2 separate regions of the Homo sapiens genome follow, and region 1 is linked to region 2. The links come from fine-mapping of genetic effects on gene expression. A gene starts in region 2. The other region holds a variant in brackets. All regions are shown on one strand. Distances are from middle to middle. Region 1 overlaps CYB5B (cytochrome b5 type B). Region 2 holds the start of NFAT5 (nuclear factor of activated T cells 5).

Evidence for each region. PIP is the estimated chance that this variant, and not a neighbour inherited with it, causes the effect.
Region 1: its variant is the best candidate, but not a certain one, in a credible set for the expression of NFAT5 in whole blood (GTEx, PIP 0.51).

The regions. Positions count from the first base shown.
Region 1 is chr16:69,447,581-69,452,955 of GRCh38, reverse strand. CYB5B (cytochrome b5 type B) reads right to left here. Exons shown (of 5, transcript NM_030579.3): 3 at 4,812-4,841. Among named protein-coding and RNA genes, the nearest start is that of CYB5B, 26 kb to the right of the region's middle. The variant C/G (reference allele first, on the strand shown) is at 2,329.
Region 2 is chr16:69,563,377-69,568,751 of GRCh38, reverse strand. NFAT5 (nuclear factor of activated T cells 5) reads right to left here and starts at 2,786. Exons shown (of 15, transcript NM_138713.4): 1 at 2,378-2,786; 2 at 204-257. The coding sequence starts at 2,450. MIR1538 (microRNA 1538) reads left to right here and starts at 2,884; the gene lies at 2,884-2,944. RefSeq lists silencers at 1,991-2,300, 2,321-2,590, 2,885-3,061, 2,781-3,160 and enhancers at 4,280-4,419, 3,822-4,718.

The DNA of each region.
Region 1 (5,375 bases), 120 kb after region 2:
ACAATCTCGGCTCATTGCAACCTCCGCCTCCCGGGTTCAAGCGATTCTCCTGCCTCAGCCTCCCGAGTAGCTGCGACGACAGGTGTGCACCACCACGCCCAGCTAATTTTTGTATTTTTAGCAGAGACAGGGTTTTACCATGTTGGCCAAGATGGTCTTGACCTCGTGATCCACCCAGCTGGGCCTCCCAAAGTGCTCGGATTACAAGCGTGAGCCACCGCCCCCAGCCCAAAAGATGTTAATAAACTGACAAGAAATAATGATGAATAAAAAAAAAATTTTTTTTGAGACAGGGTCTCGTTCTGTCACCCAGACTAGAGTGCACTGGCACAATCTTGGCTCACTGCAACCTGTGCCTCCCAGGTTCAAGCCATTCTACCGCCTCATCCTCCCATGTAGCTGGGACACCACCATTCCCAGCTAATTTTTGTATTTTTAGTAGAAACGGGGTTTCGCCATGTTGGCCGGGCTGGTCTCGAACTCCTGGCCTCGTGTGATCCGTCCACCTCAGCCTCCCAAAGTGCTGGGACTACAGTCGTGAGCCACAGTGTGCAGCCAACAAATAAAATTTTTAAGTAAAGAGAAGCAAGGTGAAGAATAGTATGTATGAGGCTTTTTACCTTTTTTTTTTTTTTTTTTTTTGAGGCGGAGTCTCGCTCTGTCGCCCAGGCTGGAGTGCAGTGGCGCGATCTCAGCTCACTGCAAGCTCCACCTCCCGGGTTCACGCCATTCTCCTGCCTCAGCCTCCCGAGTACCTGGGACTACTCAAATTTTGGGCCTCCCCAAATGCTGGGATTACAGGCTTGAGCCACCGCGCCCGGCCAGCTTTTTACTTTTTTAAAGGAAATGATGGTTGGTTTGTCTGTCTATCCATCCATCCATCCTTATGAATGCATGGAATCTTTGGAAGAGTAAACAACAACAAAAAAATGATGGCTGGTTACCTCCAGGGAAGGGGAACTAAAAGTCTCAGAGCTGGATATACGAGGGAATTTTTTTTTTTTTTTTTTTTTGAGACGGCGTCTCGCTTTGTCGCCCAGGCTGGAGTGCAGTGGCGCGATCTCTGCTCACTGCAAGCTCCACCTCCTAGGTTCACGCCATTCTCCTGCCCCGAGTAGCTGGGACTACAGTTGCCCGCCGCCACGGCCGGCTAATTTTTTGTATTTTTAGTAGAGACGGGGTTTCACCATGTTAGCCAGGATGGGCTCTATCTCCTGACCTCGTGATCCGCCCGCCTCAGCCTCCCAAAATGCTGGGATTACAGGCGTGAGTCACCGCCCCCGGCCAACTTTTTTTATAGTATACTGTTTTGAACTATTTAAATTTTTTTTTTACCATGTACATTTTATAATACTCACTCAAAAAAAATGTAATGGGGAACAGGTCAAATTACTAGACCTATTTGACTACAAGATTTAACTAGTAAAGCAGTTGAACTATTATCTAGATAATATCTGTTGAAGAAATGAATGAAATGGTGCCCACTTTTTTAGTCAGGTTACGATTTGTATGCACTTTATCTCTTGAACTGATGGCAGATTAAGTGATAAAACAGCTAACCAAGAAGTAAATACATCATCAAAGAGAGAATTCATAGACCACGAATATTTATAGGTTACTTGCTAAAGAGCAGGCAAGCAGGCAGGCAAACTGGCACAGAGAGCACTGAGTCTGTTTCTAAGGTGAGTTTCCGTAACCAAAAACAAACCAGAAAAATGTTAAGTCAAATATAAGTAGGAGATTGACGGCTCTCAGCATGAGGGTTAATCCAGCAAGGAAGAGATTCACAAAGACAAATGGTTTTTAATTCTAGTTAGTTATTTTTGATTGAAGCGGGTTAAAAAAAAATCTGTTGCTACATCTTTAAGTTTTTAAGTCTTTACGTTTTTAGTATATTAATTCTGGGCCTTCAACTCAGGTACTATCCATCTAACAATAAAACAATGGTGACCATTAATTATTTACCTGTGTTATAAAAGTAATATGAAAGGTGTTTTCTAAAAGAATTAGGGAATGGTTACTGACTTACACTTTGGAATAGCAACATTTTGAGTGTTTCTTTCTTGGCGGGCAGTAGGGATGGTGCAGTTCAGACAGGGAGTAGAAGAAGGAGAAGAAGGAAAATGGAAATGAAAACTCTCTCCCATAGGCTGAAGATACTTTTTAATTTGACTTTTAAAAATCACTTCTTCATAAAGATTCAGAAACCATGAACCAAGAGAAAGGAAGGTAACCAATGAAATGAACTCCATTTCCATTTCTTAATGGTGAATGTTTAAACCAGATAAAGTATGGAGAAGAGAGATACCTACATCCTAGACACCAAGT[C/G]CCTATTTAAACCTCTGTAAGAAATAAATCTGAGAGATCAAGAATTTCTTCCTGGAACTGAAGTCAGGTTGGAATATAGCTCTATAAAAACCTATGTAGGTGGTCTTGAAAATGTTCCAAAAGGCCTTTCTTGCCTGATCTGCCTGAAGTAGAGCAGAGTGACTAGAAACACAATAGCCAGACTCTCTACTTAATGAAGACATGTCCCTTGAGTACAGTGACATGAGGAAAACAGGATTGAAAACACTGCCTTTAGTCACTTTTTAACCCAGATAGGGGCTAAACTACATTTGGAGACTTCTAAATTATTATAGAACTTGGTGAGCTTAAATGCTTTCTTTTTCTATCTTTCTTACAAAAAAATCTAAGGCTCAATAGTTTTTTGGGTTTTTTTTTTTTTTTTTTTTTGAGATGGGGTCATGCTGTGTTACCCAGATGGAAGTGCAATGGTGTTACCATGGCTCACTGCAGCCTCAAACTCCCGGGCTCAAGCTATCCTCCAGCCTCAGCCTCCCCAGTAGTTGGGACTGCAGGCACACATTATAATGCTCAGCTAATTTTATGATTTTTAAAAAATAGAGACAGGGTCTCACCATGTTGCCCAGGCTGGTCTCCAAGTGCTGGGCTCAAGCCATCCTCCCATCTCAGCCTCCCAAAGTGTAGGGATTACAGGCGTGAGCCACTGCACCTGGATGGCTCAATAGTTTTAATTCAGCTGAGAAATCTCTAATCCTTTGGCCTATAGAAGGCAGACAATGCTTACCACAGAAGAGAATTAAATTTTCCTAAGTTTTCAAATGAAAAGATGGGCATATCATTCAGCAAAAAGTTTGGGCTTAGCTACCTACTTATCACCTAGATTACTTAAATTGCAAATTCCTAAACCCTATCTCCAGAGATTCCAAAGCAGTAGGAGTAGAAGCCCAAGAAATAAACATTTCCTATATATATTCATGTACATACCAAGGGATTCCAACTGAGGTGATACAAGAACAGAATTTGGGGAACATTGTTCTACATTCCTAAGAATGGTCCTAACTGTACTACCAAGAAAGAAAAACAGCAACAAGAAGCAATCTGTAGACTTCTAGACATTGTAATTGCAAACATATTTTTTCTATTGTTTTAATATAAAAGATGCTCTCATAGTTGCTGTGCAGAAATGTGTTATGGCTCCTATATCCTTTGAATCAGATGTTGACCTCTGAAAGTGGTATTTTCTGGACATGTTCAATATACAAATCAAGGCCACGCTTCGTTCAAATTTTACCATAATAACACAAGTTATTAAGAGTAAGCAACAACAAAAAATGATGGCTGGTTACCTCCAGGGAAGGGGAACTAAGACACTGAGAGCTTGAGACAGGAAGAAACTTTTTACAGAATACTGTTTTGAACTATTTAATTTTTTTTTTTTAAGGATTCAAGAATGGATAGTACATGTGTTAGGAGGAGAGGACAAACAACCAACAGTTGTTACAAAGTGTTTTAAGAACCATTTCATTCCCCTTTCAGAAACAATTCAATAGTTCAGAGTAGCAGTCTAGCAACATGGAAGAGTTAATTTACACAAACACTCTGGATTGCAGGGCAACAGATGGCAGACACTGTTAAGCAAGCAATCTCTTGAGTTAATAGAATTCTTGTGTCTAGGCCAACTTTAATTGCTGTGTCAAACCTATTCAGTAATTTCGGCTCAATGAGGAATGGGAAGCAAGCAGCAAGGAGGAGGAAAATGGAAGGGAGGCAGCATCACTTTCCTATGTTCTAGGTGGCACCTAAACTGCTGTCCCTTTAAATTAGAGTGCTGTGTACCAGCTATCTGAAGGACAGAAATTAAGGAAAATTGTTAGGGAATAAGGGAAATGAACCACCTAGCATGTGGGAGGCAGAAAATGGTTCCATATTTTCTTCCTGGTATGCAATGTAGTACACATTAAAGTTTTCAAACACTCAAATACTTAGTCTTTTGTTTTCGCTGTATTACTAAGTAACCGGGAAGGGTGTGGGCCTGTTTGAGCCTACAGGAAAAAAGAATTAAATTTGGAAAATAAGTACAGAAAGGCCTCTGTATTACAGATAAAGAAGATAACCTATAAGAAACAAAACAACTTTGCAATTATTTTTTTCCAACACAGAAACAATTATTATCACTTGTCCTACATAATGTAAAAGTAAGATATTTTTCCACAACTGAACCCATAAACTAATTTCTTTCAAAACCACACAGGGCATAGCTTTGGAGTTTCAGTTAAAAAAAAAAAGCGTATAAAGGCATTAGCAAAATGTTTCCTACTGTTCAAGACTCAGCTATTCTTTTATTCCTGAGATGATACTGAGTCCAAATTCCAGAAAAATAGGATTTTTGCTTGGGGAAAAAGTAAATACTTTGTAACTTCTCTTGTTAAGAAAAAATGTTTCAAAAAGCAGTCCTACTTGAGTAAACACAAATATAAACACAAGACAAACCGCTGACTTCTTACCTTGCTACCACTTTCAGGTTTAAGGTCACTCTGTCAAAAAAAGGAAAACAAATAATATTTTAAGACATAGCCAAATGAATTCTCACTATATGCTTGTTTCTAACTTTGGAACATGAGACTATATTCTGGTGATAGTGAATTCCCTGGGAGATTTGAGGATCCATAGAAAGATACCTCTACTCTGAGCATATCAGAGTCCCTTGTTAGAATGGTATATATGGATAGTTTTTAAAGTCCATAATTACTACCTTTAGCAAGGAGCTTGCAAAAACAAGCAAACCACTATTTTAGGTAAAGGTGTTATTAACTGCATTACAAAAATAAATCAACACATAAAAATAATCCAGAATCAGTTCCCTTAGCTTTTTAGAGATATTACATGTGCTACCTGGCAAAGAAGAAGCTATATCCTAGCACAGTAAGACTAGACAATTTTGGAGAAAATTTAGCCTGATGGCTAGATTGAATGAATTTCCATTTTAATAATTTTTTTTTTTTTTTTGAGACAGAGTCTCGCTCTTTCACCCAGGCTGGAGTGCAGTGGTGCAATCTTGGCATACTTCA
Region 2 (5,375 bases):
CAGATAGAACAGCCAACAAGCACATCAAACGCAGCAACAAAACCCATTGAAACATTCAGCTGCTCTAAAAGAAGGATCAGACTCTTTAGGAGAAAACTACATTGTGTGAGTTTGCAAAGTTTCATACTTTCCCATTTAAACTCCATTTCAGAGAAAGCCTTTGCATACTAACACAATATGCTTTAAAATGGTACTTTGCTGACCTTCCAATAGTCCAGCTCTATGAAAATTCTGTGATGGGTGTAACTTCAGAGAATCTGAAAAACACAAAAAGCATTAGGTACTTTTTATGCTGAATGAGGAAAAAAATGCCAAGGATAGCATACATCTCTTATATAACTGCAATGTGTGTGTGTGTATATATATATATATATACACACACACACACACACACACACACACACATATATATATATACACACATACATTTTGAAACGGAGTTTCGTTCTTTTTGCCCAGGCTGGAGTGCAATGGTGCGATCTCGGCTCACCGCAACCTCCGCCTCCCGGATTCAAGTGGTTCTCGTGCCTCAGCCTCCCGAGTAGCTGGGATTACAGGCATGCACCACCACGCCCGGCTAATTTTGTATTTTTAGTAGTGACGGGGTGACGGGGTTTCTCCAAATTGGTCAGGCTGGTCTCAAACTCCCGACCTCAGGTGATCCAACTGCCTCGGCCTCCCACAGTACTGGGAATACAGGCGTGAGCCACTGCGCCCGGCCAACTGCAGTGTATTTTTAAGCGCTAAAGCCCATATTTGTGAATATATTCCCCGCAAAAGAGGCTGAATTGTCTCTACATTGGTCTCGAAGCTAAACTTAGATTTTCATAAAGTATATGTTTCATGGAAAATTATCTGATGATTACTCCCCAAATGGTGTTAATGTCTTGGCTATTTTTAGCACTCAATTCTAACACATTAGCCCTGCTCTAAGAATCATCTCTTGATATGTCTCTTTTTTTTTTGACATTCAAAACTACAATATTTCTAAAGTACCTCAGGTAATGTTGCCCGAAAAACATCCTACAGGATGGTGGCTGCCAACTAAAGTCATTGGAGCAACAGACAGTGGCTACAATTACTAAGTAGGACTCTGTGTACAAAATCAATGGTCAGTCTGTAAAGTCCAGCACCTTTCAGAGTAAACCATCTCACTCTGATTCACTTAAACAATTTAGATACACTAGTAGGAAGGTGAAGTCCCTTTTTTGGAGGGGGTGGAATAAGCAAATGGATGGATACATCAAACCAAAAGCAGAAGAAACACCTACATTTTTTTTTACACGGTGAAATGAATAGTTAACAACCCAGTTATGTCTTTTGCCCCCTCCCGGTGGTTTAAAAAGCGTAAAGAGCGCAGTGGGAATATTTTGGTTTTGAAGCCCCTTGCACAGGGAACCTGTTCTGACACATTCTTGTGGTGTCCAGTAAAGGAATTTCACCTGAGTAGGGATCAGCTCCAGTGCTAATATTTCAGATGCTGGGAATCCCCTGCAGGCCTTAGCCAAAAGAGTTCTTAAATGAAAAGTCTCTGCCTGAGCTCCCTCCCTGCAACCAGCCCTTGAACGGAAAAGCAGAGAAAATTCTCAAAGGACAGCGTCTGTGCCTGGGCTGGTCCTCCTGGGAGAGGAGAGGAATAAAACCAATCCAGAGAGGGCACCCCCATCTTTGTAAAGGAGAAGGGAGAAGTAATTAGAATGCCACGGAGGTGGGAAGAGAAAAAAAAAGAAAAGAAAATTCGGGCCCTTTCCATCGGGCCCTTTCCAGCAAGAAGATGACGAGGAAAGGAAGAACGCCTGGTCGAGGGGGGCTGTCCCAACATGGGGAGGGAGTGGACTAGGCCGGAGGGAGAGGGGGTGGAACGACGGCGCAAAAACAAGCTGGAAAGGGAGGAAAATGGTGACCCTGCACTCAGAACCGGCTCCAGGCCACGCCGCCCGCTTGGGGGCAACTTTGCTGGGGAGGAGGGTCCCGGTAAGAGAAGACGCGGCGCCCCGATCGCGGTGGCCCCAGCGCGGGGCCCAGTCTGGGGCCATCCCCGAGCCCGGGAGGCCGGGGCCGGCGGCTCGCGGAGCCTGGCGGGGCCGGACGGGCTGAGAGCGGCTAGAAGCGACCGGTGCCGCAGAGCCCCGGGGGCCGACGGAATCTGGGCCCCGAGCGGCCGGCGGCTCCGCGGGGGAGGGGCCGCCACTGCTCCGCCCGCCCCCTCCACCGTCACCCCGATCCCTTCGGCCTCTGCCCGCTCCGGCCAAAGAAGCCATGGGGGTCGCGGCTCAGCCGCCCCCGGCGGGACGGGGACCCCTCGCCTCCCCTGGCCCTGTCTCCCTGTCTCCCTGTCTCCCCGCCCCCACGCCCCACCCCCCACAGCCTGACTCACCTCGCGAGTAGAGGGACTTGGGCGATTCCAGGTCTAGGTCCGCGCTGAGCAATGAGATGAAGTCCGAGGGCATCGCAGCTCGACCCAGCCCGGCCCGAGGGCAGCGGGAGGGGGGGAGCGGCGGTGGCGGCGGCACCTCCTCTCCGGGACCGCGGGCACCGAACCGGGGGCGGCGACGCGAGGGCGGCTGCCGCTGCCTCCTCCTCGAGGGTAGTGACTTCCACTGGGCCGAGGACCGAGGAAACGATGGCGAGGTGGAGGGGGAACTCCACGGGGACTGATTCTCGGTGACCAGGAGAGGGGTTCAGGACGGGGAAGGGGAAGGGGGAGAGCCAAAGGGTCCGTTTCGTGTTTCTCCTCAGCGAAAACTGACGGTCGCCGCCACCGCCGCCGCCGCTGACAGGAATCTGAGCCCCGCCCCCGTGGGGCACAGCGCAGGCGCGGAGGGGGGTGCCCGGGAGCGCGGAAGAGCCGTGGCGGCCCCCGGAGGGCGGGGAGGCGCGCCAGGGAACAGCAGCAACATGGGCCTCGCTTCCTGCCGGCGCGGCCCGGGCTGCTGCTGTTCCTGAGCCGGGAAAGGGCCCCGCTGCCAGGGTGGGAGGGGGGGAGGCTGGGAGGTGGCCGCGCGCTGGGGCCCCGGGGAGGGAAAAGGTATTTGCAACGACCTGGTGGCGGCGAGCCTGAGGCGGCCGGCCCCGAGCAGAGCTGAGCGCAGGAGACAGAGCCGAGAGAAGCGAGAGGTCTGCGCGAGCCGGGGACGGACCCCAGAGGCCGGCGGCGGACGGGCCTGGCTGGCCCGGGGTCTCGCAGGGGACCGGAGTGTCATCGCCCGGACAGCCGCCAACCCTTTGGGGTTTGCATAGCAGTGTGTACAAAGGGACTGTCAAACCCATTTCTTAATTAGGAAATGGCAAACCGTATCCCAAAAACCTCGAGTTATTGATTTTTAATTAAAGTACTTTCTCCCCTAACACTCCCCTCCTACCTTTGGAGGCTGAAATTTTTTTTAAAAAAAACGATCTCTCTGATTGTGCTGGGGCATCCGGGTTATTCGGAGTGGGACATAGAAGACAATTAAAAAATTGGATCATGTGAATCCACCTGGCTGTTCTAGAGGAAAAACAGGTAAAAAGCAAACCTCAACGCTACTCTTCCAAACAGTTTTTCTTTTTTCTGTTTCTTTTTTTTTCCTTTTGGACTAGGCAAAGATGGAGGAAGAACGCATTTAACTGAGTTTTTGCTCTTGCTTTTCTGTTCGTGGAGCCAAAAGTTTCCGTTGCAAAAATTTAAAATCCTCACCCACACCGCAGAGCGTTTTCTGATTCTAATAGACTTCTGAGAAATTTTTAATCAAGTTATTGAAATATTACCTGGAGTGCAGGGTGTGCATCTTGGGAAGTAATTTTAATCTTGTGTGGAATATTGATGCCAGTAGCCACGTGGGCATGGTTTTTAAGCTATTCGAATGGTTTCGTTTTTTATCTACAAGGATAGTTACAACTCATGAAAATCAGTCTGTTGTAATATGTGTATGTGTATATATATGCACACATATATATACATACATATATACACACATATATACATATATATATAATTATAGAGACTTTTTCCCATGAAATTGAGCAGTTCTCGGGACTTGGAGTGCTAGGGTTGGGGTAAGAAGCTCTCAGCAAAGGAGGGCCCAGTACAGATGTCGCTGAGGCAAGGCCCTTTACAAAGTTTTACCTGTAGACCTAGAATTTAAACGTGTGTCATCAGAGCTCACCTATCTTTCATCTCAACATTTGATTCAGGTTGCCCAGTTGTCTTCACTGAATTGTGTGTAGTAATCAATCCTGTGAACATTTTTCTTTTGTCGGAGGTTCAGAAAGCTTTTCAGAGCCACCCCAAGATGGCAAAGCAGAACAAGAAACTGCCCTCAAATTGCCATCTCTGCTGTATGGTGTCGTGACAAGTCCCAAGGGAAGTCCCTTCATAACTGATAAGAGCCCCACTCATTTGAGAGAGAAAGATTGAAACCTCACATTGCCCAACAGGCCAAGGCCTACTGAAATCCTATAGCTTCTGAATTGGAGTAAACACACCTCTTGGAGACCCCCCATACGCCACCCATTAGTCAGTATACAGGGTAGCAGAGAGGAAATGCGATTCACCACCCGATACTAAGAAAGTTGACTGAATCACTCTGAGCAGATCCCTTTTCCCCAGACCGATGTAATCACTTAACAAACTTAGGGTATAGGAAATCCCCAGTACGGTTCTGACCCTAATTAACTAGTCAAGAACTGGCAAGGCCTCTTCCTTTTTCTGTGAATCCTTCTCTGCCCTTTTGTGACCTTTTTATTCCCCGTTGAGGCTTTGTTGTATATGTTAATCAGATTTCCCCTGATTAGGTAAGAGCAAAGTGAAGAGAGGCCCACCAAAGTGTGGCTTGACCTAAACTGCGAATTCCCTGAGAGGGATTCTGTGGGCTCAGGCCTCACTTACCTCATTAGGTCCTGCATTAAGCACGGATTATATCTAAATAGGTATTTGAAAAATCAGTGTCCACTCCCACCCCCTGCACCTGTCTTCTTACAGAGATATATTCTCTTTTTTGTTTGTTTTTTTAAGATGGAATTTCACTCTTGTTGTCCAGGCTGGAGTGCAGCAGTGCAATCTCGGCTCACTGCAACCTCTGCCTCCCTGGTTCAAGTGATTCTTCTGCTTCAGCCTCCTGAGTAGCTGGGGTTACAGGCGCCCACCACCATGCCCGGCTAATTTTTTGTATTTTTAGTAGAGATGGGGTTTCACCATGTTGGCCAGGCTGGTGTCGAACTCCTGACCTCAGGTGATCCACCCGCCTTGGCCTCCCAAAGTGCTGGGATTACAGGCATGAGCCACGGCACCTGGCCTATATTCTTTTCTTTTCTTTTTTTTCTTTTCTATTCTTTCGGGTTTTTTTGTTTGTTTATTTTTTTGAGACAGGGTCTTGTTCTGTTGCCCAGGCTGGAGT